2 linked regions of the Homo sapiens genome follow. The protein of the gene in region 1 interacts with the protein of each later gene in a biochemical or structural test. Each region holds a gene or a part of one and is shown in the gene's direction. Other genes may lie near its edges.

Region 1 (8,158 bases):
GTTCCCAAGGAGCAATCTGGAGGAAGGGAAGAAGCACAGACATGTGAATTCATGACATCATGAAAGAGCATGCCGAAGAGCTGCATGGCTCCTGTGGAGACAGACGAGCCGGGGCTAGAGGCAGAGGTGTGCTAGAGCCAGCTCGTGCCTGTTCTCAGGAACCGACTGCACACCTCTTCCCAACTCTGTGTTTACTGACCTCACATTGATAGCTTAAAATTGGCCATGGGGGAATATTTACATGGGGAAATAGGCAAATGCTACAAACCAGAGTCCTTTCCCCCTTCTCTGCCCTTGCTTGAGCCAGTTTTTAAGCATTCCCAGCAGCACTGCTACATGGGGAAGCCTGGGCCGCAGAGGTGAAGCTCCAGCTGCCCTTGAAGGATGGACAGGGCTTGGTCATTTCCAGAGTGTGACTCATCTGCCTCCCATGTGAGCCTCACACTGTGCTGCGGGTATGCGGGTCAACCCGGATTTTCATTTTACAGGACAGGAAACGAAGACTCTGGTAGTTAAGAGATTTGCCCCTTGAAAGCCCCGTCCCCAGGGCTAGGACTTAAACCCCAGCATCTGACCCTTTTTGCTGGACAGTGCTTCCCAAACTGTCCATTCACAGATTTTCTTCCTGATTTTAAATATCTATACTCTCATCGTTTAGTAATTTTTCCTTTAAATAATGTTTTTACTTACAATGAATTTATTTTGAAGAGGAAACATTTATCACACTAGTATGTTATCCATTTACAATCAATTTTAAAAACATTTCATTTAAAATCCCATCTCATGTACCCTGATGACACTTGGGGAAACACACCCGAATCTTCCAGACAGGCAGGAGAGTGAGAAGCACAGACTGCGTGTATTGGGGCATGTTTGTTGTCTTCACTAAGGCAGAGGGAAATGGGGTCAAAGTGACATTCCAAAGACTGAAATGAAGACTCAAGGCTTCAGAGCCGCCCCTTAAAGCTCCAGCCCCTTCTGTGCAGGTTGCCTGCACCAAGACCACCCAAAGATGCCCTCCCCACTCCCCACACCCCCCAGTACATACACAGAGGAGACCCAGCCTTTTCTGGACAGCACAGCTGTCCACAAGGCTGACAGATCTGGGTGTGAATCCCTGCTGAGGCCATTGGGAAAGTTGCTTAACCTTGCTGAGCCTCATTTTCCTCATTTATAAAATGGGAAATGGTTACACCCGCCTCATGGGGTTGTCGGAGGACCAGTAAAATGGATACGTACGGATATAGAATGGAAAAAAGCACCTAGCAGAGCGCCTGCACCCAGTGTGTGCTCAGGCGTCCTATGCTCACCCACTCTTACTTAGGGAGAGTGCATTCCATGATTGAGCGGTTCAGACAGCAGCTCAAGCCAGGCAGTGGGCATGGACAAGACGGCTCCTTTCTCTTGAGTTCCACAAATCATCGGGCATCAGTCAGAGTTGGGCAAACACAGTTTACCTTGAGCCTGACCCCAGAGAGATCCAGAGTGAACACACGGGAAGTGGGTGCACTTTGGAAATCTCCTGGCCCACTGCCCCCCAATTCTAGCCTGCACATCCATGTCCCTCTGGGCTATTTTTAAAATGCCATATCAGATCCGGTGAATCAGAATCTCCAGGAGAGAAGGAGCCCCACTGTCTCTTTGAAAAGCTCCCTGAGCAAATCAGATACAGCCTGTCTATAGCTGCAGGGACCATTGATCTAATTCAGGCCCTGGTTTTACAGAGAAGGAAGCCAAGGTCAGATATGGAAGTGATTTTTGAGATAGCGGCAGGGCTGGGACCTTCATCTGGGCTGCCTTCAAGTGAACCCAGAGGTGTTGGCAGTCTGGCCCCAGCTGGAGGAGAAGCTGAAGGGGCACTAGGTGGCCTTGCGGATGATCAGAGAGTAAGGCGCGTCCTGCCTGGAACACTGTGTCCATGGCTGATGTTCCTGTAAACTCATCTACCTTGGATTCACGTGGATTCCCAGGGCGAATTCCCTGGTTATTCAACCTCCACCCCCGGGCCCCATTTCCCTCTGTCCCCCAAGGCTCAGAGGGGCCTGGGCCACTTTTTAGGGCTAAGCAACAAAGGGTTAAAGCCTGGTTCCCAGCAGCTTCTGCCACCAGGCAGAGCCCATGGCCAGCAAGCCCCGAGCTCATCACTCCCTCCCTGGGCATACAGCATTAAAGGCCCTCTGCTCGGGGATTTGATGTGACATTCCATAGGCATTCCACACTCTGCCACCTGCCAACACACCCTGGCCATCCGTCCCAGGCATGGAAGGCAGCACCAGGAGCCGAAGGCTGTTTGCCAGATGGTGTCTTCTCGTCAGCACACTTAACCGCAAGGGGTGACATGCGGGTGTGCTGAGAAAGGAGCCCTAAAGTCCCGATGTCGCAGTCACCTCCAAGACACGCATTTTCCTGTTGTTCATTTCCAGTTTAGCAAAGCCACCGTATGAAATCAAAGATCAACACCAAAGATAGACGTATTAAGAAACTGTGTGAGTTAGCGCAGAGCAGATGCCCCAAGAATAGCACCCAAAACAGTAGTGTCCAACCTTGGCTGCACCAGAAACCCTGATGCCTGGGCCCCACCTGACGAGATGGCGCTGCCGCTGGTCTGGGCCGTGGCTGAGGCTTCAAGGTGTCTAAGAGCTGCCCGGGAGATTTTACTGTGCAGCCTGGGTAGAGAATCAGGATCTTAGAGCCTCTTCTGTGGCCAACAGAAAACACAGACTTGCATTCTGGGCCTTACTTCTGCCTCCCTCGTTTTTAAATATTCCTTCTCTTTTAGTTCCAACATATAACACTTTTGCTGTATTTTATCAATCTTTGCAAGCCACTTGAAATTCTTCCTAGAATAAGGCAAAATAGAGAACACTTAACACATTAAATTAAAAAGCAGCTTATAAAGCACACTGACAAGCAAGTTAATATCCCCATTAGTTAAAAGAGAAACTGAGGCTCAGAGCTCAAGACTTCATAGAAAACAAGTCAGGGTGGCACAGTGAAGCTCAGAAGTGTTGGCAATGGAGCCGTCTGTGGGCAACTGGTTCCCATGTCAATCCTCCAGCCAATGTTTTTGTTGTTGTTTGTTTGTTTTTGAGACCGACTCTCTGTCACCCAAGCTGGAGTGCAGTGGCACAATCTTGGCTCGCTGCAACCTCTGCCTCCTGGGTTCAAGTGATTCTCCTTCCTCAGCCTCCCAAGTAGCTGGGATTACAGGTGTCCACCACTGTGCCTGGCTAATTTTTGTATTTTAGTAGAGACCGGGTTTCATCATGTTGCCCGGGCTGGTCTCGAACTCCTGAGCTCAACTGATCCACCCGCCTCAGCCTCCCAAAGTGCTCCGATTACAGGCGTGAGCCACCGCGCCCGGCCCTCCATCCAAATTTACATTGAACACTGACAAGGGTCAAAGCACAGTGACCTGGTGATCCAGAATGCCTCTGTGTTTAGGGTAGCAGGGGCAGTAGGCTGCAGTTGTGGTGGTGGTCAAGATACCAAGAGCATTGTTCATTCACTGCCGACTACGGGCCAATCAGATTCATGGGAAAGATCTCATTTATACTCAGAAGCAGCCTTGGTGAAAGATCATTACATTGTGCTTTGTAACCTGGACCTGGGGTTGTAAGCAGTCCTACCTTGCCGGATTGTTATGAGTAAATGAGTAAATGAGATTAAGTTCTTAGCTCTGAGGGTCATGCTAGGATTAAATGAAGTAAACAAATGTGAGGACCACTTTAAATGGTACCTGGCACACAGTAAGCGCTCAGCAATATTAGCACAATTATGACTTAAGAAGGTAAGGGGTAAAGTGCTCACAGCAACCCACTGGAGCTCAATAAAGGGTAGCTATAGCTATCACCATCATCATCATCATCATCATCATCACTATTATTACAATTAATTACCCCTCTGCTTTAGGTGCGGTTCAGAGAGGTTAAGTGACATGCTTGCGCTGGCCCAGTGCTGAAGGGTAGAGCTGGTGTGTAACCCATGTACCCCTGACTCTGAGCCTCCCAGTTTCCCCACTGCCCATGCTGGGCCCCTCTCTAGCTAAGGACAGCTTGCGTTGGCTCAAAGCTCTCTGCCCATTCCCCTGCTGTTGGGCTAGATTCAGGAAGGACATCAGAGCCAGGGCCAGGTGGTATGGCAAGGCTGCTGCTCTGAGGAAACTAGAATCCTGGAGTGGGAGCCCAGACCTGGGGCAAGGATGTCAGGCTTCAGATACTGGTGGGTCCTAGGAACAAGACAAGAGCCCAGTGATTCGGAATGAGGTCCAAGGTCAGAGACAGCTCAGCACCTGCCACACTGCTGCACTGGGTCTTCCTGGAATGACCCTGAGCTGGATCTGCTCCGGTCTCAGGGCCCAGACAGGAAAGGCTAAGCTGGTAGTTGTGGCCTCTGCATTGGGGAGGGGACAAGGAAGGGGTAGGGGGCCATTCTTCCAGACACCTACGGCTCTATCAGACAATAGTCACCTTTGTTCCTCTTCATGAGGTGCCGCTTGAGCAATTATACTCTGAGAATCCAAAACGTGCCTGTGGGAGAAGTGGGAAGAGTCAGACTGTTTGGTGGGGTCACCCCCTTGTCCTCCTGTCCTCTGCCCCACAAAATGGGCTGGGAAGAGGAGTGATGATGTGCAGTGGGGCTACCAACGTGGCCGCTCCCATAGTTGGGAGGAGAGGGGCATCGTAGAAGGCTTGGCCCTGGACATCCAGAGACCTGTATTTTGCTCTTGTGCACCACCCACCTTCTGTCCAACCTCACTCTGTTCCCCACCCCAAGCCTGGGCTTCAGGTTTACTCTGTGTAAAATGGGAAAGCTGGACGCACTGATCTCCAGAGCCTGTCCGGCGTTACACATTCACTTTCTGATTGGCAGAGTCCTGCCGCAGTAAGATGATTCACCACATAACTGAGACAATGCTCAAGTTCCCACATTTCTGCCACTTTCCCTTGGTTCGTGGAGAACTGCCGGAGACCAGCTGTGACCTGCCAGAGATACCAGCCCCATCTGTCCAGCGGCCCCGGGGCAGCCCCTCTCACTGTTCTTTCCCGTTCTTGGGCACGTTACAGCTGTTAGCAGAGCATTTGTTGGCCGTGGCCGCCATCCAGGGTGAGGCCCAGGCCTGCCTTTGACCAGCACCTCTGCAGAGCAAAGTCAGGCCTCCTGTGCCTACACAAATAGAAATTAGGAGGCAATTAGCCCCCCGGGTGTGTGAATTTCCTTTTGAGGTTTTAGAGTCAGATTTTAGCCAAACACAGCATCACTAACAATCATAATACTTTCCACTGAGATCCCAGCAGGAGGTCGCTGGCATCAGATTTCCAGGAAGCCTGTGTGCCAGGAGGCCAGAGGCGTGGGAATGGGCCTGGTGGCACCTGCTTCTCTCCCCTTCCCCCACCGCCCCACCCCCTGTAATGGCCACCTCCTTGGAGTCCCACAGGAGGCTGTGAGGTCACCTGTCAGCAGGGATTGGATGGATTAGGGTCTGGAATCATATTGGTGCAGGAGCTTGTTCTTGCAGGTGGCAGGGCTGTAGGAGAAGAGAGCCAAGAGAAGGGGTAAAGAGTCCTGGGGTTGAGCCCCCAGAATTGTCTTATGACCCCTGATTAGTCACTTCGGCTCTCTGAGCCACATCTGTTAAAAAGAAGGCCACAGGCCTGCTCCGGCCACTCCCACCCAGGGCTGAAGTGAAGGTAAAATGGGCAGGCAAGTTAACACATTATGAAGACTGCAAAACCCCGGGATATATTAACTGTCACCCTGACTGCTACACAAGAGGTAGGGGCATTGTTAAGAGTGTAGCTTTGGGGTCAGACTGCCTGGGTTCAAATCCTGGCTCCATCACTTACTGGCTGTGTATCCTTGGAGGAGTCACATACCTTCTCTGGGCTTATGTCTCCTCATCTCTGAAATGAGGATATTACAGTACTCACTTCAGAGGGCTACTGGGAGGATTTCACAGATGAATAGAGGTAAAGTGCTGAGATCAGTGCTCGTGTTTTAGGGAAGAGAGGAACTGGTGGTTGCAGGGAGCTCAGGCTTCCGCAGTGGCTGACCAAGTTCTCCACACCCAGAAGGTGAGGCAGAGAGACTGGGAGAAGCTAGCGTCAGCCTTCGGGGAGGAGGCGTTGAGACTGACAGGAGAGGAGTGTAAGTGACCTCATGGTCACAATGGGCTGGTTGGGGCCTGGGGCAGTAGTAGTTGGGGCCAAATTAGTTGGGGCCAAACACATTTGTCCCCTTTTGTCCTCAGGATCTCGTGGCTCCACTGGGGTCCCAGGACAGCAAGATAGGGACAGCTCAGCCCTGGAGTCAGAGGAGGGCACACACCCTGGTTCCCCTATTCTGACTGTATGACTGGGCAAGCCCCTTAATCTCTCAGAGTCTTGACTCTTCTCATCTGCAAAATGGGAATGATGAGCCTTGCTTTAGGGGTTATTGTAAAGATTAAACCCAATCGCACTTGTAAAGCCTTTAGGAGCCTCCTGGCACACGGTGGGCTCTGGGATCTGGCTGTCCCTGTCCGTCCTCCCCCAGAGAGAGCAGGGTCTGGCTCCAAACTTCGCCACTAGGCTCTACTGCCTCCTGCAGGGAGGAGGTTGGACATTCATTGGGTTTGGGGGCCTTCCAGGCAATTCCTCCAAATAACTGAGCTGGCAATGGGCAACAGCGCTTAGCCTGAAATAAATTAGTGGGAGCTTCTTGAAACCCTAGTGCAGTCTGGCTGAGGTTTTTAAGAACTCAGACTTCGGAGGCCAAGGGTTCTGGGTCTGAAGCCCAGCTCTGCCCCTTACTGGCTATGTGACTTTGGGAGGGTGGCTGAAGCTCTCTGAGCTTCAGTTTCCTTATCTGTAAAGCGGAGACGGCAGCCGACCCACCCTGCCCAGTGGGGTGAGAATGGTTGACCCGCGGCGCCCCCTGCCGGTGGGATCCGCGTCGCAGCCCGCGGTCAGGGCGACCAGCCGAGCCTGGCGCCCGAGCTCTCCTGCTGGCGGGGCCGGCCCTACCCGTCCACACCCCGACCCTCCCCTCACCCGCGCCCGCCCCTCGACCCGGCAGGATCGTGCAGATGCTGCTGCCGGTGACCAGCCGCACGCGCATACGCCGTAGCGGCGTCAGTCCGCTGCACCTGGCGGCCGAGCGCAACCACGACGAGGTGCTGGAGGCGCTGCTGAGCGCGCGCTTCGACGTGAACACGCCGCTGGCCCCCGAGCGCGCGCGCCTCTACGAAGACCGGCGCAGCTCCGCGCTGTACTTCGCGGTGGTCAACAACAACGTGTACGCCACCGAGCTGCTGCTGCAACACGGCGCCGACCCCAACCGCGACGTCATCAGCCCCTTGCTCGTGGCCATCCGCCACGGCTGCCTGCGCACAATGCAGCTGCTGCTGGACCACGGCGCGAACATCGACGCCTATATCGCCACGCACCCCACCGCCTTCCCCGCCACCATCATGTTCGCCATGAAGTGCCTGTCGCTGCTCAAGTTCCTCATGGACCTGGGCTGCGACGGCGAGCCCTGCTTCTCATGCCTCTACGGCAACGGCCCGCACCCGCCGGCCCCGCAGCCCTCCAGCAGGTTCAACGACGCGCCCGCGGCCGACAAGGAGCCCAGCGTGGTGCAGGTGGGCAGCGCACGCTGGCGGTGGGGAGCACGCCTTTTGGGTGTGGCCCAGGGACGCGCGCGCGCATGGGAGGCGGGCGGGGCCGGGTGGTTCGCGCTCCTTGGGAGCAGCGTGGACTAGTGATTAACACCCTTCGGGGGAAGTGGGGCCAGCTTTGGAGGCAGCAGAGCACGGTGGTTAACCTGCGTCCTGGGTAGCGTGGGTTAGCGCTTAGGGCGCTTTGGAGGGAGCTTTGGAGGGAACTAGGGGTTAGCTCACTTTGGAGGCAGCGGAACCGGTGGTTAGCACACTTAAGAGGCCGCAGAACTTAGTGGTGCATTGGAACGGTGAAATCCTTCTTGTGGTCCACTGCGTTGGGGAATTTAAGGAACCAATGATGGAGCGGAGAACTCTGCCAAACTAAGAGGCTCGTCACCTCCAGCAAACCTACACCTGGAATGCGATGTGAAACAAGCACGATCCGGAAAGGCATGTCAAGAGCAGGCTGGTGTAGGGTCAGGTCAGAAGCAGAAAGCCAGCGACCCAGAGGCAGGACAC
Region 2 (17,159 bases), on another chromosome or scaffold:
TGAGCCAAGATCGTACCACTGCACTCCAACCTGGGTGACAGAGACCCTGTCAACAAAAAAAGGAAAGAAAGAAAGAGGAAGAAAGAAGAAAGAAAAGAAGGAGAAAGAAAGAAAAGAAAGAAAGAGAAAGAGAGAAAGAAAAGAGAAAGAAAAGGAAGGAAAGAGAAAGAGAAAGAAAAGAAAAGAGAAAGGAAAAGAACGAAAAAGAAAGAAAGAGACAAAGAAAGAAAGAGAGAAAGAAAAGGAAGAAAGAAAGAAAGAAAAGCAAAAGTTGAGTTCTGATGCTGTCACTGTGTGACCTTGAGCAAGTCACTTCACCTTTCCGAGCTCTCCCCACTCCATAGCAATTCAATGAGTGATCATAAACGCCTCCACTCTTTTAGATAATAGGGATAAGAATAAACACTCTGTTCTCGGGCGCTCTGAGAATAATACTGCTAACTCTGGCTGGCGGAGGAGTAGATGAGATAAGGACAGAAAAGGGCTTTGTCAGCGTAAAGCCATTCGCAAAGGGGAAGCTCTGTTCCAGTTGGAAGGCAGACTGGCTTTGCCAGGTGAGCAGTAGCTAGACAGTTTTCTTTAGCAGAAAAGTGCTCTGTGGCATTTGTCTGCAGTTAAAACAAAATAAAACAGAGTCACACAAAAATCTTCTAAAGAAGTGAAAGTCAGACTGGGTGGAGGAAGACAGCCCACTCATTTGCAAATTGCACATGTGAGATTCTAGTGAGACTAAGGTGGGGTGTGAGGCATGCTCTGGCCATGGGTTCCACCTTGGGCTGGGAAGGGCCAGTGGGAGGAAGTTGAGGCCCTTAGCAGGCCCTGATTCCCCACCTCTGCTGAGGAACAACACGCAGATGTGGAGTGAAGGGTGGCTGCCGCCTTCATTCTCTTACCACAGAAAGGTAAGCTGTGCTTTGGGCAGTTAGGGCTGTGTGTTCTGAAGGATTGAAGAGATCTCCAAGATGCAGAGCTGGCTTCTAGAGTCGGTTAGACTAGGGTTCAAATTCAGATTCTGACACTTAATACCCACAGGAGCTTGCATAGGGGACTTTCTCTTTGAGCCTCAGTTTCCCAACTTGTGCTACAGGGATGATAATGTTAGTACAGTAGTTCTCCTTTGTCCACAGTTTCACTCTCCATGGTTTCAGTTTGCTACAGCTAACTACAATAAAAAAAACATGGAAAATTCCAGAAAGAATTCATGTTTTACATTGCACACCGTTCTGAGTAGCGTGATAAAATCTCACCCTGTCCCACCCTGTCCTGCCTGGGACGTGAATCATCCCTTTGTCCAGTGTGTACACATGCTGTCTACGCCACCTGCTCATGGTCCTCTTAGTTATCAGATTGAAAAAGCATGGGAAATATAGGATTCAGCACTGTGGGCAGCCTCACGCATTCACTGGAGGTCTTAGAACATGTGTGTCACAGATAAGGGGGGACTATTGTATCACACTCAGTAACACACACAGTATTCTTGAGATTTAAAAAAGGATGCGGTGGCTCACGTATGTAATCCCAACACATTGGGAGGCAGAGGCAGGCAGATCACTTGAGTCCAGGAGTTTGAGACCAGCCTGAGCAACATGGAAAGACCCCTATCTCTACAAAAAATACAAATATTTGGGCGTGGTGGTGATGTGCACCTGTGGTCCCAGCTACTCACAAGGCTGAGGTGGAAGGATCGCTTAAGCCTGGGAGGTCCAGGCTGCAGTGAGCTGCCATGACACCTTCGCAATCTGCCTTGGTGACGGAGTGAGACCCTGTCTCCAAAAAAAAAAAAAAAAAAAAAAAGAAAAAAGAAAAGAAAAAAGATAACCCATGTTAAGATACTTAGTGTGGCATTTCTTACATCTGTGAGGATCAAAGGAGAGACTATAGATACAATCACTTAGCCCACTGTGTGAATAAACAGACAGTAGAGAATTGCTGTCATGAAAATTGCTCTGCCCTGCCCCTTCTGATCTCCACCTTGGCTGCTGGATTAAGAGTGGGAGGGTTGGAGTGAAGGCCTGTGCCTTCTTTTTTATTTTTTGAGTCAGGGTCTCACTATGTTGCCCAGGCTGGTCTCCAACTCCTGCGCTCAAGAAATCCTTCCACCTCAGCCTCCCGAATGGCTGGGATTGCAAGGATGAGCCCCCCGGCCGGACTCCCATGCCTTCTTCAAGCAGCCTGCCTGCCAGCAGCCCCTGCCTTATCTCAGGTCAAGGCTGGCTGGTGGCGCCATTTTGAATCTGGAACTGCAAAATGCCATTATCTTTTGCTACCTGGTGGGGAAGGCCTGCCCTCTCAGCACTCCTCCTCTTCTTCCCACCTGAGTGGGCTTCCTCCCAGCACCCTACCCAGATGGTCTCAGGACCTTCACAGCCAGACTGGGGCTGGGGGGTGAGCACACCCACCTGTCTAGGGAGCTGTTGAGAAACCAGCTCCTCCTTCCTCTCAGGGTGGAGGCAAAGGAAATATGCTTCTTTATATTTTGCTTCTCTTTCTTGGTGGCAGGGTGTGGACATTGGTGTAAAATTACAACTGAGAAGGCCCCCGCCCTGGGGTGAGGACTCCTGGGGCCCCACCCTGGGGAGGACATGAATTCATTTTGCAAGTCCTGACTCTCTATCTCTATTTCCTTTGGAAAGCGGGCTTCTAAATCTGGAACCTTCAGCCTGCATTCTTTGGATGTTCAGTCATGAAGGTGCAGTGATGATCATGATAATAGCAGTATTAACTCCCTCAGTTGATACTTATTTGCTAAGTGCTATGCCCCCAGTTTCTCATTTATCAGAAACTCCTGGAAGACATGTTAACAATGGCGGTTACCTGTAAGGAAACAAACTCTGGGTAGCTCCAGGTCCTTGCAGTTAATCATAACTGTTCCCGGGGGACTTTTTTAGTATCCACGCTCTGCCACTCTGTGATCTCAGGCATATGACTACCCCTTTCAGCCTCAGTTGCCTTACCTGTAAAATGGGGATAATAACAACACCTCCTAGGGTTCTTGTGAAGACTAAATGAGATAACATCAGTACTCCAGAAATGGAAGCTTCTATTACTATGGCCACCACTACTTTTACTATTACAAATATCCTGACATTAATATAATGACTACAATAGTGGACCCCAGGACACTGAGAAACCACAGAATGAAGGTTCACCTGGGACCCCTCTCACAGAGCTGGGATTCCTGAATTGTGCAAGTGGGTTTCACATATAGAAATGGAAGTCCAAGCATTAGGAAAAATAACTAATGCATACTGGGCTTAATACCTAGGTGATGGGTTGATAGGTGCAGCAAACCATCATGGCACATGTTTACCTATGTAACAAACCTGCACATCTGCATATGTACCCTGCAACTTAAAAATAAATAATAAATAAATAAATATGCCAGGTGCAGTGGCTCATGCCTGTAATCCCAGCACTTTGGGAGGCCGAGGCAGGTAGATCACCTGAGGTTAGGAGTTCGAGACCAGCCTGACCAACATGGTGAAACCCCGTCTCTACCAAAAATACAAAATTAGGCTGGGCGCGGTGGCTCATGCCTGTAATCTTAGCACTTTGGTAGGCTGAGGAGGGCAGATCATGTGAGGTCAGGAGTTCAAGACCAGCCTAGCCAACAGGGTGAAACCCTGTCTCTACTAAAATACAAAAATTAGCCGGGCATGATGGCAGGTGCCTGTAATCCCAGCTACTCGGGAGGCTGAGACAGGATAATCGCTTGAACCCAGGAGACAGTGGTTGCAGTGAGCGGAGATCATGCCACTGCACTGCAGCCTAGGGGACTGAGAGAGATTCCGTCTCAAAAAAAAAAAAAAAAAGTAACTCGGTGTGGTGGCACATACCTGTAATTCCAGCTACTTGGGGGGCCTGAGGCAGAATTGCTTGAACCTGGAAGGCGGAGGTGAGCTGAGATCATGCCATTGCACTCCAGCCTGGGCAAAAAGAGTGAAATTCTGTTTTAAAAAAACAGATTAAAAAATAAATAAATAAATAAAAGAAAAAAAAGAAAGAAAGAAATGGAGGTCCCAAGGTTAGGATCTTGGTGAGACCACTATGGGTTGCCAACTTATTCACTGGTTTATTTCAACATCAAGCCTATCTCTACTCCTGCACTGACCCACAGGAAAGCCACCAGTAGCCAAAGGTGGCTGTTGAGCACTTGAAATGTGCCAGTCTAAGCTGAGATGTTTTTTAAGTATGAAATACATATTGGATTTCAAAGACAGTACCCAAACAAAGTAAAAATATAAAAATACTTTAAAATATCAATTGCATTTTGAAATGATAGCATTTTAGATCTTCTGGGTAGGGCGATCAGCTTGTTCTGGTTTGTCAGGGACTTTACTGGTTGCAACACTGATAGGTCTGCATCCCAGGAGATACCTTAGTCCTGGGCAAACCTGGTCATTTGGTCACCCTACTATCGGGTTAAGTATATAATTGTCATTAATTTTACCTGTTTCTTTTTACTTTTTTTTTCTTTTTTTGAGATGGAGTCTTGCTCTGCCACCCAGGGTGCGATGGCGCAGTCTCGGCTCACCGCAACCACAGCCTCCTGGGTTCAAGTGATTCTCCTGCCTCAGTCTCCGGAGTAGCTGGGGTTACAGGCATGCACCACCATGCCCGGCTAATTTTTGTATTTTTAGTAGAGATGGGATTTCACCATGTCGGCCAGGCTGGTCTCGAACTCCTGACCTCAGGTGATCCACCTGCCTTGGCCTCGCAAAGTGCTGGGATTACAGGTGTGAGCCACCGTGCCTGGCACCTTTTTACTTTTTGAATGACACTTAGAGGGGAGCCTTAGCACATTAGTGGCTGTTGGGCGGAGTTGATCACATTTGCTCATTTCACCTAGCAGGGAGGAGGGCCCTGGGAGTCACACTGGCTGATAAGTTTTGATGGATGAGTGCGAATGGAGGAAAGTATGAGGAACTGAGGGCCTTGGTCGTGGGGGAGGAAGAGGTTACCAACTCTGCCTGGAGTGAATCTGCTGCTCAGGGGCCCACGGAATGGACAAAACCATGTCCCAGGCTTGGGGAGACCACGGGGACCCTTGGGCAAAATACAGCCTTTGGAGTTAGACCCAGGTTCAAGTCCAGCTTTGTCCAGTCATTACCAGCTGACCAATAGCAAATCTTATCACTTAATCACTAATGAGGGGAACAAGCATTCAAATATAGTCATGTGTACATAATGACATTTCTGTCAACAACAGACAGCACAACACATTACTGTTGTGTTTGTGGTGATGCTGGTGTAATCATAACCTTCTGTGCTGCAGTCCAGTAAAAATATAGCACAGGCCGGGGGCGGTGGCTCACACTTGTGGAGGGCCACCTCCACAAGTTGCAGTGAGCTGAGATCGCACCACTGCACTCCAGCCTGGGCAACAAGAGTGAAACTCCATCTCAAAAAAATAAAACAAACAAACAAACAAACAAACAAACACTTTTTATTGCCTGGGTGTGGTGGCTCACGCCTGTAATCCCAGCACTTTGGGAGGCTGAGGCAGGAGGATTGCTTGAGCCCAGGAATTTTAGACCAGCCTGGGCAACATGGCGAAACCCTGTCTCTACAAAAAATACAAAAATTAGCTGGGCATGGTGGTGCGCCCCTATAGTCCCAGCTACTCAGGAGGCTGAAGTGGGAAGATAACCTGAGCCCAGGGAGGTCGATAATAAAATTTTAAAAATTTTTAGTAGAGATGGGATTTCACCGTGTTGGACCAGGCTGATCTCGAACTCCTGGCCTCAGGTGATCTGTGCACCTCGACCTCCCAAAGTGCTGGGATTACAAGCGTGAGCCACTGTGCCCAGCCAACATACTTGTTTATTATCAAATATTATATACTGTACATAATTGTATGTTTTATATATGTATGTATGTGTGTGTGTGTATATATATATATATATATATATATATTTTTTTTTTTTTTTTAGACAGAGTCTTGCTCTGTCACCCAGGCTGGAGTGCAACGGCACCATCTTAGCTCACTGCAACCTCTGCCTCCTGGGTTCAAACCATTCTCCCGCCTCAGCCTCCCAAGTAGCTGAGATTACAGGCACTCGCCATCATGCCCCACTAATTTTTTTTGTATTTTTGTAGAGATGGGGTTCCACCGTGTTGGCCAGGCTGGTCTCGAACTCCTGACCTCAGGTGATCCGCCTACCTCAGCCTCCCAAAGTGCTGGGATTAGAGGCGTAACCCACCGTGCCTGGCCAATAAAAAGTTTTAAATACAGAAAAAAGCTTACAGAATAAGGATTTAAAGAAAGAAAGAATTTTTGTACAGCTTATAATGTGTTTGTGTTTTAAGCTGTTATTACAAAAGCCAAAAAGTCAAAGAATTAAAAAATATATAAAATTAAAAAATTACAGTAAGCTAAGGTTAATTTCTTTTTTATTTTTCTTTTTTCTTTTTTTTTTTTTTTTGAGACGGAGTCTCACTCTATTGGCAGGTTGGAGTGCAGTGGCGCGATCTCGGCTCACTGTAACCTCCACCTCCCGGATTCAAGCAACTCTCCTGCCTCAGCCTTCCGAGTAGCTGGGACTACAGGTGCGTGCCACCCCACCCAGCTAGTTTTTGTATTTTCAGTAGAGACAGGGTTTCACCACGTTGGCCAGGATGGTCTTGATCTCTTGACCTCGTGATCCACCCGCCTCAGCCTCCTAAAGTGCTGGGATTACAGGGGTGAGCCACCGTGCCCGGCCTCTAAGGTTAATTTCTTATTGCAGAAGAAAAAGATTAAAAAAATAAACTTAGTATAGCCTCAGTGTACAGTGTTTATAAAGTCTACAGTAGTGCACAGTAATGTCCTAGGCCTTCACAGTCACGTACCACTCACTCACTGACTCACCCAGAGCAAATTCCAGTGCTGCAAGCTCCATTCATGGCAAGTGCCCATACAGGTAGACTATTTTTATCTTTTTATTTATTTATTTAGTTAGTTAATTTTTGAGATGGAGTCTCTCTCTGTCTTCCAGGCTGGAGCGCAGTGGTGCGATCTTGGCTCACTGTAACCTCTGCCTCCTGGGTTCAAGCAATTCTCCTACCCAAGCCTCCCGAGTAGCTGGGATTACAGGCGCCTGCCACCATGCCTGGCTAATTTTTGTATTTTTAGTAGAGACCGAGTTTTGCCATGTTGGTCAGGCTGGTCTCGAACTCCTGATCTCAAGTGATCCACCCGCCTTGGCCTCCCAAAGAGCTGGGATTACAGGTGTGAGCCACCACGCCCCGCCCAATTTTATCTTTTATATCGTATTTTTATTATACCCTTTTAATGTTTAGATTCACAAATACTTATTGTAACAATTGCCTACAGTATCAATATAGTAACTTGCTGTACAGGTTTGTAGCCCAGGGGCAACAGGTGATCCCCTCTAACCTGGATGTGTGGTCGCCTGTACCATCTAGGTCTGTGTGAACACACTCTCTGGTGTTCCTATCATGACAAAATCCTCTAGCATTCCTGTTGTTAAGCAACACATGAGTGTAGTTACTGAGTCCCTATTGTGAGCCAGGGCCGGGTAATATATTCTCTCCCCCAGGCTGTTGTGACCATTTCCAGTGAGTCAGTTCATCTGTCTGAACAAAGCACTCTGGCATTGATTGTATGCAAATAACCTGTTACAGAATGGTTCTACCCATAAACTGGCTGGCCTCTTTTGAGCAACCCTCAAAGTTGCAAGCCCTTGCCCTCTGTCCTGGTCAACCTCTCTTCCTCAGAAGCTTGCCTGCTCTGAACTCCTCTCCCAAACCGGGTTAGGAGCCCCTTCTCTGGTATCAGGGCACCCTGTGCCTCTCTTACAGACTTGCATTATGGTTCTAACTGTGCTGTGTGGCCTGGGCAAGCCGCTCAACCACTCGGTTATTTCTTCTTTTTTTTTTTTTGAGACAGAGTTTCACTGTTATTGCCCAGGCTGGAGTGCAATCTTGGCTCACCACAACCTCTGCCTCCTGGGTTCAAGCGATTCTCCTGCCTCAGCCTCCCAAGTAGCTGGGATTACAGGCATGCGCCACCACGCCCAGCTAATTTTTTGTATTTTTAGTAGAGCTAGGGTTTTTTCATGTTGGTCAGGCTGGTCTCGAACTCCTGACCTCAGGTGATCTGCCCACCTTGGCCTCCCAAGGTGCTGGGATTACAGGTGTGAGCCACTGCACCCGACTTGAAAGAAATTGCTTTGCACTGTGCTTGGCACAGAGGAACAGCAGGTGTTCATTCAATGCTTGCTGTTGTAATTATTCAGGCTTTTATCAACAGAGGGCTGGCCTGAGACTCTGCCATATCTCAGAACCTAGCACAGAACCTGGATGAGTACAGAGTAAGTGCTCAATGTATGCTGTGGTAGGCAGAGTAATAGCCCCCAAAGACGTTCACATCCTAACTCTCAGGACCTGTGAACATTCCCTTAAATGGCAAAGGGGAATTAAGGTTGCAAACAGGATTAGGGTTCTTAATCGGCTGATTTTAAAATAGGGAGATCATGTTGGACTAACCAGCTGGCCCAATGTCATCTTAAGAGTCCTTAAAAGGGCCAGGTGTGGGGAGGTTGAAGCTGCAGGGAGCCGAGATTGAGTCATAGCACTCCAGTTTGGGAGACGGAGTGAGACAAAAAAAAGGCTGGGCAAGGTGGCTCATGCCTGTAATCCCATCACTTTGGGAGGCAGAGGCTGGTGGATCGCTTGAGGTCAGGAGTTCAAGACCAGCCTGGCCAACATGGTGAAAGCCCGTCTCTATTAAAAATACAAAAATTAGCGGAGCGTGGTGGCGGGTGCCTGTAATCCCAGCCACTCAGGAGGTTGAGGCAAGAGAATTGCTTGAACCCAGGAGGAGGAGGTTGCAGTGAGCCGAGATTGCACCACTGGACTCTAGCCTGGGCAACGGAGTAAGACTCCATCGCAGGAAAAAAAAAAAAAAGGAAGATGTGCCTATGGAGAGAGGACTGTCTGAGGTCTGAGAGACTCCACCTGACATTGCAGGCTTGCTTTTCTGTTTTTTTTTTTTTTTTTTTTTTTTTTGAGACGGAGTTTTGCTCTGTCGCCCAGGCTGGAGTGCAATGGCACCATCTCAGCTCACTGTAACCTCTGCCTCCCAGGTTCAAGCGATTCTCCTATCTCAGCCTTCCCAGTAGCTGGGATTACAGGTACGCGCCACCACACCTGGCTAATTTTTGTATTTTAAGTAGAGATGGGGTTTTACCATGTTGGCCAGGCTGGTCTCGAACTCCTGACCTCAGGTGATCCACCCACCTTGGCCTCCCAAAGTGCTGGGATTACAGGTGTGAGCCATTGTGCCCAGCCCATTGCAGGCTTTCACAGAGAAAAGGGGCAGGAGTCAGGCGCGCAGGCAGCTTCTGGAAGTTAGAAAACACAAGGAAACAGATTCTTCCCTACAGCCTCCAGAAGGGAATGCATCCTGCCAACACTTTGTTTTTAGCTCAGCAAGACCTGTGTGGGCCATCGAACCTACAGAACTGAAGGATAATACATTTGTGGGTGTGTGTTTTCAAAGACACTAAGTTTTGGTAACTTGTTACAGCAGTAACTGGAAACTAAGACATGCAACAAGCCTTATTGTTCATTTTTACCACCACTACTGGGCTGTTGGTTATGGTGGAATTACACTTTTCTCTTCCATTAGGCTGTGTGAACTCCTTGAGGTTGTGCAATACGTTTGTCTGATTTACTACTGGTTAGCAGGCTCTGAGAAGAATGGCTGGTACACAGGCGGAGCTCAATAAAAGCCCTTACTGAATTTTATTCAATCTATATGTGGATGAAGACCTCCGCCCCGCGCGCCCCTCCCGCAAGTCCCACTGAGGCCCGACCCATTCTGTCCGGCTCCCAGCCCCCGCGGGTCCCCCCACCCCGGGGCTGACCGGGTGATTCAGGCAGCCCTACATCCTGCTGGGGTGGTGGGCTTCGAGCGCGGGTCCCAGGACGCAGTGGGGCGCAGTGCCTGCGGCAGGCGGCAGGAGGCGAGCGTGGCCCAGGAACTCCCGCGGGAGGGTCGGGACGGGGCGGGGCTTGGGGGCGGGGCGGCTCAGCGCGCAGGCGCGGGGCCAGGCGCCTCGCGCGGCCAGGGGCGGGCGGCCGCAGAGCAGCACCGGCCGTGGCTCCGGTAGCAGCAAGTTCGAACCCCGCTCCCGCTCCGCTTCGGTTCTCGCTCCTTCGGCCCTTGGGCCTCCAAACACCAGTCCCCGGCAGCTCGTTGCGCATTGCGCTCTCCCCGCCACCAGGATGCCGGTAACCGAGAAGGATCTAGCTGAGGACGCGCCTTGGAAGAAGATCCAGCAGAACACGTTCACACGCTGGTGCAACGAGCACCTCAAGTGCGTGAACAAACGCATCGGCAACCTGCAGACCGACCTGAGCGACGGGCTGCGGCTCATCGCGCTGCTCGAGGTGCTCAGCCAGAAGCGCATGTACCGCAAGTACCATCAGCGGCCCACCTTTCGCCAGATGCAGCTCGAGAATGTGTCCGTGGCGCTCGAGTTCCTGGACCGTGAGAGCATCAAGCTCGTGTCCATCGGTGAGTTCTCTGGCCGGGCCCAGGCGCCCACTGTGGTGCCGACCCGCCCCCGCGCGTGCACCCCTGCGGAGGGCGAGGATTTCCCGCAGCGCGCCCCCACCTCGGAGATAAGGGGGAGTCGTCCCCAGGGGTGGGTTATAGGGGGCCTAGACCCCCTCCCCGGTGTCTTCCCCTGGGATGGGACCTGTTGTGATCGCTCCCCGCCATCCGCCCCAGCAGTGCACCTTTGGCTGGCTAAGGGTTGAGGGTTTGGGCTGGGGTCACAGGAGGAGAGGTGGAGTTGTTGCATTTCTCTACACCTGGGGCGCCCCTATGGGAGCTAGGGGACTAGAAACCCTCGTTCGCTGTCCCCGGGGGCGGGCCCTAGGGTCAGATGCTCCGCGGAGTGCTCTCCCTGCTGCGCCCAGGTTGGTGCTCTCAGAGGCAGCTGAATGGGCGTTGGCTCGGAGGCCGGGCCGTGAGACCTGAGGAGGAACCGTTCTCTGCGCCTGGGGCCTCCCTGCCCAGGTGGAGACAGAGACCTGGTACCTTCCCCTGCCGTCGCTGGAATGGGTGTGGGCCCCGAGGTTGCAAGGGTAGGCGCGGGTGTGTGTCCTCGCTCTCTCTGCTCCCAGCTCAGCTCTGGCCGCGCGCCGCAGGTTGAACCCACTCCTTGCTGCCGAAGTTATAATTTAGAGATGGTGGTGGTAACAGTAATTGCTGTCTTGTAGGGAGCCCAACTAGCGTCCACTGTGTACCGTCAGCCTTCTAAGTTATCTCCGTCCCTACGCATCCTGCCATCTGGGGTGAGGCTAGACCCATTTTACAGATAAGGGGGTCCGGAGGGTTAATTGACCTGTCCAAGGTCAGCAAGTAGGGCCCAGCTGAGAACTGAAGGAAGTGGGCAACAGTTAGAAGGAGGCTTTGTTTTCCTCTCCTCTCCCAAACCTACACCAGGGTCTTCCTGAAAGGAGGGAGGGAATTGGTGTCTCTTGCTGGACTGGGCCTTCTGGTCTGGGGAGGAAGAATAAGGATGAAGTCTCCCTTGTGGTCTGAGATAGTTGGAGGCTTCCCAGAGGGCCACAAGGCTACTGATAGTGTGGGCTGTGATGGTAGGGGCTGTGATGTGTGTGTGCATGTGGGCGTTTGTGCAGAGAACGTGTGTACACACATAGCATGTGTGTATAGCATGTGCATATGCAAAGAGTTTGCATGTACACGGAATGTATGCAGAGAATGTGTATCCACCTACACGTGTGTATGGGTGTGTGTATGTGTGTGTGTGTATGTGGGTGGGTGGGTGTGGGTTGGGGCAGAGGAGGGTTCTGGGTCTGGATCTCTTCCTAAGGAGAACCAGGGACTGGCCCTGGCCTGTGATTTGGGTCTCTTCCTGAGGAAACCAGGTCACTATAGTGACCCTAGTGACAGGAAGAAAGGGAGATGGGTGTGGCTGCCAGGACTTTCTCCAGTGGAAAAGGGATTCCCTCTAGGCTGAGCCTCCCCTGGGCCTTAGGGCCTCACCCTTCCCTTCCCCCACACCTGTCCTGGCAGGTAAGGCTGCTTCCTGCTTCCTGGGCCCAGATGGCAGCCGCACCACCCAGCTGATCTCCAGCAGCCCTCCCCCTCCCCAAGGGTGGCTTCCCTGCAGAAGAATCTGCATGGCACGCTGTTGTCTTCTTTCTGGGGTCCATCTCCTGTACTGGGGAGGGAGAACCTCAGAATCTCCTGGAATTCTTTACCATTCAGAAACCAGCCTCCCCTCTGAAGAATCCCAAGGCCCAGCTGGGCTCAATTTGGATCTGTTCTTTGTTTTAAAAATGTGTATTTATTTAATTAACTGAATAAAGAAACTTAAAGTAAACCAGAAGTATCCAAATACGACATGAAATCTCTAAAACAACAACAAAACCAAACCAAACCGCAGCACTAGCAAATCACAGACTGCCTGATCTACCCACTGTTTACAGAGGCAGCAGCTACTTCCAGCACTGTCTCTCATCAGTGCCCGGGGCTGTGGGTCTCATTCTAGATTTTGTCTACATTTTTTTACATGGTTCTCCTGATTCCCTGCTCCCCCTCCCCACCACCGCCCCGCCTGGAGATGGAGCCTTGCTCTGTCTCCAGGCTGGAGTACAATGGTGCCATCTCTGCTCACTGCAACCTCCACCTCCCGGGTTCAAGCGATTCTTCTGCCTCAGCCTCCTGAGTAGCTAGAATTACAGGCACATGCCACCACGCCCGGCTAATTTTTGTATTCTTAGTAGAGATGGGGTTTCACCATGTTGGCCAGGCTGGTCTCGAACTCTTGACCTCATGATATGCCCGCCTCGGCCTCCCAAGTGCGGGGGTTACAGCCCTGAGCCACCGCGCCCAGCCCGGTCCTCCTTTTATTTTCGAATCCACTCAGGCCCTAGCTACTCCCATTGTCCCGACGTTCCAGGGTTAGTTAGCTTCCCTTCCTCTGTGCTGGGCCTGTGGGCTGTTGGCAGCTTCTTCCTGTTCCTACCACAACTTGCATTCTATTTTTTTCCTTTTTAATGATTTCTTGGATCATATTCCCCAGAGTGACATTCCTGGGTTAAAGGGTGTGACCACATTTATGACTTGTATCATTGGCTGCCTAATTGCTCTCCCGAGAGATCTTGCAACAAACAGGTTTTCCAGCCTCTGGAGACCACAGAGAGCCCTGGCAAGTGCCAGGACTGCTGTGGGGATAAAGCAGGAGGCTTCTTCCCTAAGCTCTTGAGGCTGTTGTGGGTAATGGTCCTTCATCCTTCAAGGCAAAGTTACCTCCAGCTTGGACTAAGGTTCATATATTCACTGCTTAGGTTGTGTTACATTGTGCTGACAATGACACTAGCTTCAATTTGGGGGCACCTACTGGGTGTTAAGTGTGTTCTGTTGATCACCCCATTGAATTTTCATGCTAATCATTGATTGACAGCAACTACTGCCCTATCTCTAATGATCTGCTTCTGCAAGTCACTTAGAGAGTTCAGGGCTTAACACTGTCCTGGGCATGTGTTGCTTAGAAAATGGCGCCTGTTAATTAAATAAGGTGCTGTCTAATAATTATCTCAAAAGTAATGCCAGGGCTGGATGCCGTGGCTCACGCCTGTAATCCCAGCACTTTAGGAGGCCAAGGTGGGTGGATCACCTGAGGTCAGGAGTTCGAGACCAGCCTGGACAACATGGTGAAACCCTAGCTCTACTAAAAATACAAAAATTAGCTGGGCATGGTGGTGCACACCTGTAGTCCCAGCTACTCGGGAGGCTGAGGCAGGAGAATTGCTTGAACCCGGGAGGTGGAGGTTGCAGTGAGCCGAGGTCTTTGTGTAACTGCACTCCAGCCTGGGAGAGCGAGACTCTGACTCAAAAAAAAAAAAAAAAAAAAAAGTCATGCCCGAATGGTTTGCACACCGAAGGGACGTTCAAAATTAGGGGAGAACAGCCTGGTTGTTTGTTTCTGTTTGGTTGATCATACTCTTGCCATGGTTAGTATTATTATCTTTATTTAAAGATGGGAAACAGGAGTGAAGCCACTTGTGGAGGTGACCCAGCTAGCTAGTAAATGGTGTCTGAAACCCAGGTCTGCCCAGCTGTTGAATTGGAGCCTTAACTGACTTGCCTTCCAGTTTCAGAGATGAGTAAAATACAGCTTTTCTCTCCACATCAGAGGGTCCCTGCAACACTAGGTTTGCAAGTCTTAGGTGTTAGGGTGGTGGCTGGATACCCACACTCTGAACCTCTGACCTTGGACAAAATAGGGATGTCAGGGCCTTCCATGATTGGCAGGATGAATCCTCTGGGCTGTGATGAAGGTCTCACAAGTTGAGAGTCAGCCGGGAATTAAGTGGGATCAGTTTGCCTCTTGTGTTTTCCTCATTGTGTTTTGGTTGGTTGGTTGAGATTTCCTACTACCCAATGGATGATGTTTTATTCCATCGTCAGGGAAGGTATCATTGAATGAATACAGGGTTTTGTATGCTTTGGATAAGACCAGACAGTTGTGGAGTCATTAGAATTGTGTACATGCCTCCAGCTCTGAGATAGGTGGTGTTTCAACAGCTGCCAGAGGACTCTGGCTTTTCTGCCTAGAATTCACTGAAAGACAACCCTGGCTATTGATTCACATTTGTGGTTCATTGTAAGGTAGGCCCCTAGGCGCCATCCAAAAGTTGAAAATTTCCTTACGTTTCTTGTTATGTGATGGGCAGTTCATAGTGAGGACTCAGTGTCTTTAATTCCAGCTGTTTGCCAGGAGTTGGCAGTTTTATTTACTTGTTTTTCCAAAAACCTTTCTGACATGGGGCAGTCCAGCCAGCTGGGAGGAAAAGGGGTCTCTCAGCCCAAGAATGATGATCAAGGCCTAGAAGTTTGGGTGGTGTGTTTTGTTTTGGGCCTTTAGAGAAAGGAATTGTTTCCTTTTCAGAGGATGTGGTCTAACCCTAAAGTTTACTTGACTGACTTAAACCAGGCCAGCGCCAGAGCAGGCAGGGTGCGTGTTCCCAAGACTTCGGGTCACTAGGCAGCTTCCAGGGTGGTGGGTCACTGGTCCAGTCAGCTCCTTTTCCTTCCTCTCCCTTTTGTGCTACTACTACCAAAATAATTTCCAAATAACCTTAAGTTCTGCTCTTTCTTGCATGTCTAGCAGATGCCAGCATGTCTTTTGGGTAGTACAGAGAGTGCTTAAAAAGTAGCAAAGTTGGCCGGACGTGGTGGCTCATGCCTGTAATCCCAGCACCCTGGGAGGCCAAGGTGGGTGGATCACCTGAGGTCTGGAGTTTGAGACCAGCCTGACCAACATGGAGAAACCCCATCTCTACTAAAAATACAAAATTAGATGGCCGTGGTGGTGCATGCCTGTAATCCCAGCTACGTGGGAGGCTGAGGCAGGACAATAGCTTGAATCCAAGGGCAGAGGCTGTGTTGAGCTGAGATCATGCCATTGCACTCCAGCTTGGGCAACAGGAGCAAAACTCCATCTCAAAAAAAAGTAGCAAAGTAGCATGCTTTGTCAGAATTATTAATAACAAGTTGTGGGCCATGTACAAGGTGGCACATTAGCATTCAATGTCACTTGTGTAGTAGTTAAGAGCAAGGATTCTTGGTTCAAATCCCACTTGCCACTAAGTAGCTATTAGAAACTTCTGTGCCTTGGTTTCCTTATCACTAAAATGGGGATAATAACTACCTTCTTAAAAGGCTGTTATAAAGATTAAACAAGTTAATAATTTTTAAAGTGCTTGGCACAGTTTATGGTACATAGTAAGTGCTCTGTGAATGCCTGTTAATTAAATAAGGCACTGTTTAATAATCTCAAAAGTCATGCCGGAAAGGTTTGCACACTGAAAGGGCATTTGAAATCAGCGCGCTCTGGGGAGAACAGCTTGGTTGGCTAAGGTTGATCCTACTTGCTAAAATACGGCTATGGACTGCCTAGAGGGTGTCACCTCCTTGAAAGGGGCTGCCCCCTGCTATGTTATGGCTGCCTCCAGGGCCCATTCACACCAGCTTTGTTTCCAAGCTGGACAGGGAGCTCCAGGCGTCTGGTCATTCCAGCCTCCCACCCCTTTCAGGAATCTCTGGGCCAAATCACTTCCAGATGGTGGTTGGGCCTCTGTGGAGTTCTCCCAGCAACGGCGGAGCCAGCATGCCAGTCGGCAGCCGCCTTCGTTCTTGGAGAGTCTGAGCTAAAGGAGGGCTTTGATTTGGAGCCAAATTGTGTCTCTTGGGTCCTGGTTTTGTGCTGTGAGGCAGGTACCATGGAGTGGGCTGCTGGCTTAGTTGAGGATGGCTGCCCTGCTCCTTAGGGGAGCAGATACCCAGGGCCTGGAGCCTTTAGGCCCTGCCTCCAGTAGCTCCATGGTCAGGGTGCCAGTCACCTTGCGTTTTCTTTTTCTTTTTTTTTGAGATGGAGTCTTGCTCTGTCGCCCAGGTTGGAGTGCAGTGGCGTGATCTCGGCTCACTGCAACCTCTGTCTCCCGGGGTCAAGCAATTCTCCTGCCTCAGCCTCCTGAGTAGCTGGGATTACAGGCGTGCGCCACTATGTCTGGCTAATTTTTGTATTTTTAGTAGAGATGGGGTTTCACCTTGTTGGTCAGGCTGGTCTCGAACTCCCAACCTCGTGATCCACCTGCCTCGGCCTCCCAAAGTGCTGGGATTACAGGCGTGAGCCACCGGACCCAGCCAACTTTGCTACATCAGTTTCCAGGTAGCATATCCTAGGCAAAACTGGATGTAGCCTAGTGATTCAGGGCCTCGGTCTGAAGCTAGACTGTCTGGATTCTAATCCGCACTCTGCCTGATACCAGCTGTGCAACTCTAGTCCACTGCTTTAACCTTTCTGTGCCTGCTTCCCTGTCTATAAAATGCAAGAGCAAAATAGTTGCTATCTTAGAGTTGCTGGGAGCATTATATTTGATGAGGTTAAGTTATAGCACAGTGTTGTCATTATCACTATGAATATTGTGCTTTTGGACCCAAGTCCAGGACTTTGTCTTGTCTTCTGTCTATTCTCTGGCCAGTCCAGATATTTTTGGAATCCTATTGCTGTCATCTGGTGTGTTAGCTGTTCCCTTTCTCCAAGTTCAGAACGTCTGATGAAGATGTCTCCCAAGATCCTTTCTTCCTTTCCTCATTCAACAAATATATG

What was found.
Region 2: of the proteins of ASB2 (region 1) and FLNB, one has a biochemical effect on the other in vitro, tested with the Homo sapiens proteins (one study listed by BioGRID).

The regions. Positions count from the first base shown.
Region 1 is NC_000014.9:93,938,571-93,946,728, reverse strand, and holds part of ASB2 (ankyrin repeat and SOCS box protein 2), read left to right. Parts: intron 1-7,056; coding exon 7,057-7,621; intron 7,622-8,158. UniProt on the Homo sapiens protein: Substrate-recognition component of a SCF-like ECS (Elongin-Cullin-SOCS-box protein) E3 ubiquitin-protein ligase complex which mediates the ubiquitination and subsequent proteasomal degradation of target proteins.
Region 2 is NC_000003.12:57,998,332-58,015,490, forward strand, and holds the start of FLNB (filamin-B), read left to right. Parts: upstream 1-10,090; 5' UTR 10,091-10,233; coding exon 10,234-10,525; intron 10,526-17,159. UniProt on the Homo sapiens protein: Connects cell membrane constituents to the actin cytoskeleton. May promote orthogonal branching of actin filaments and links actin filaments to membrane glycoproteins. Anchors various transmembrane proteins to the actin cytoskeleton.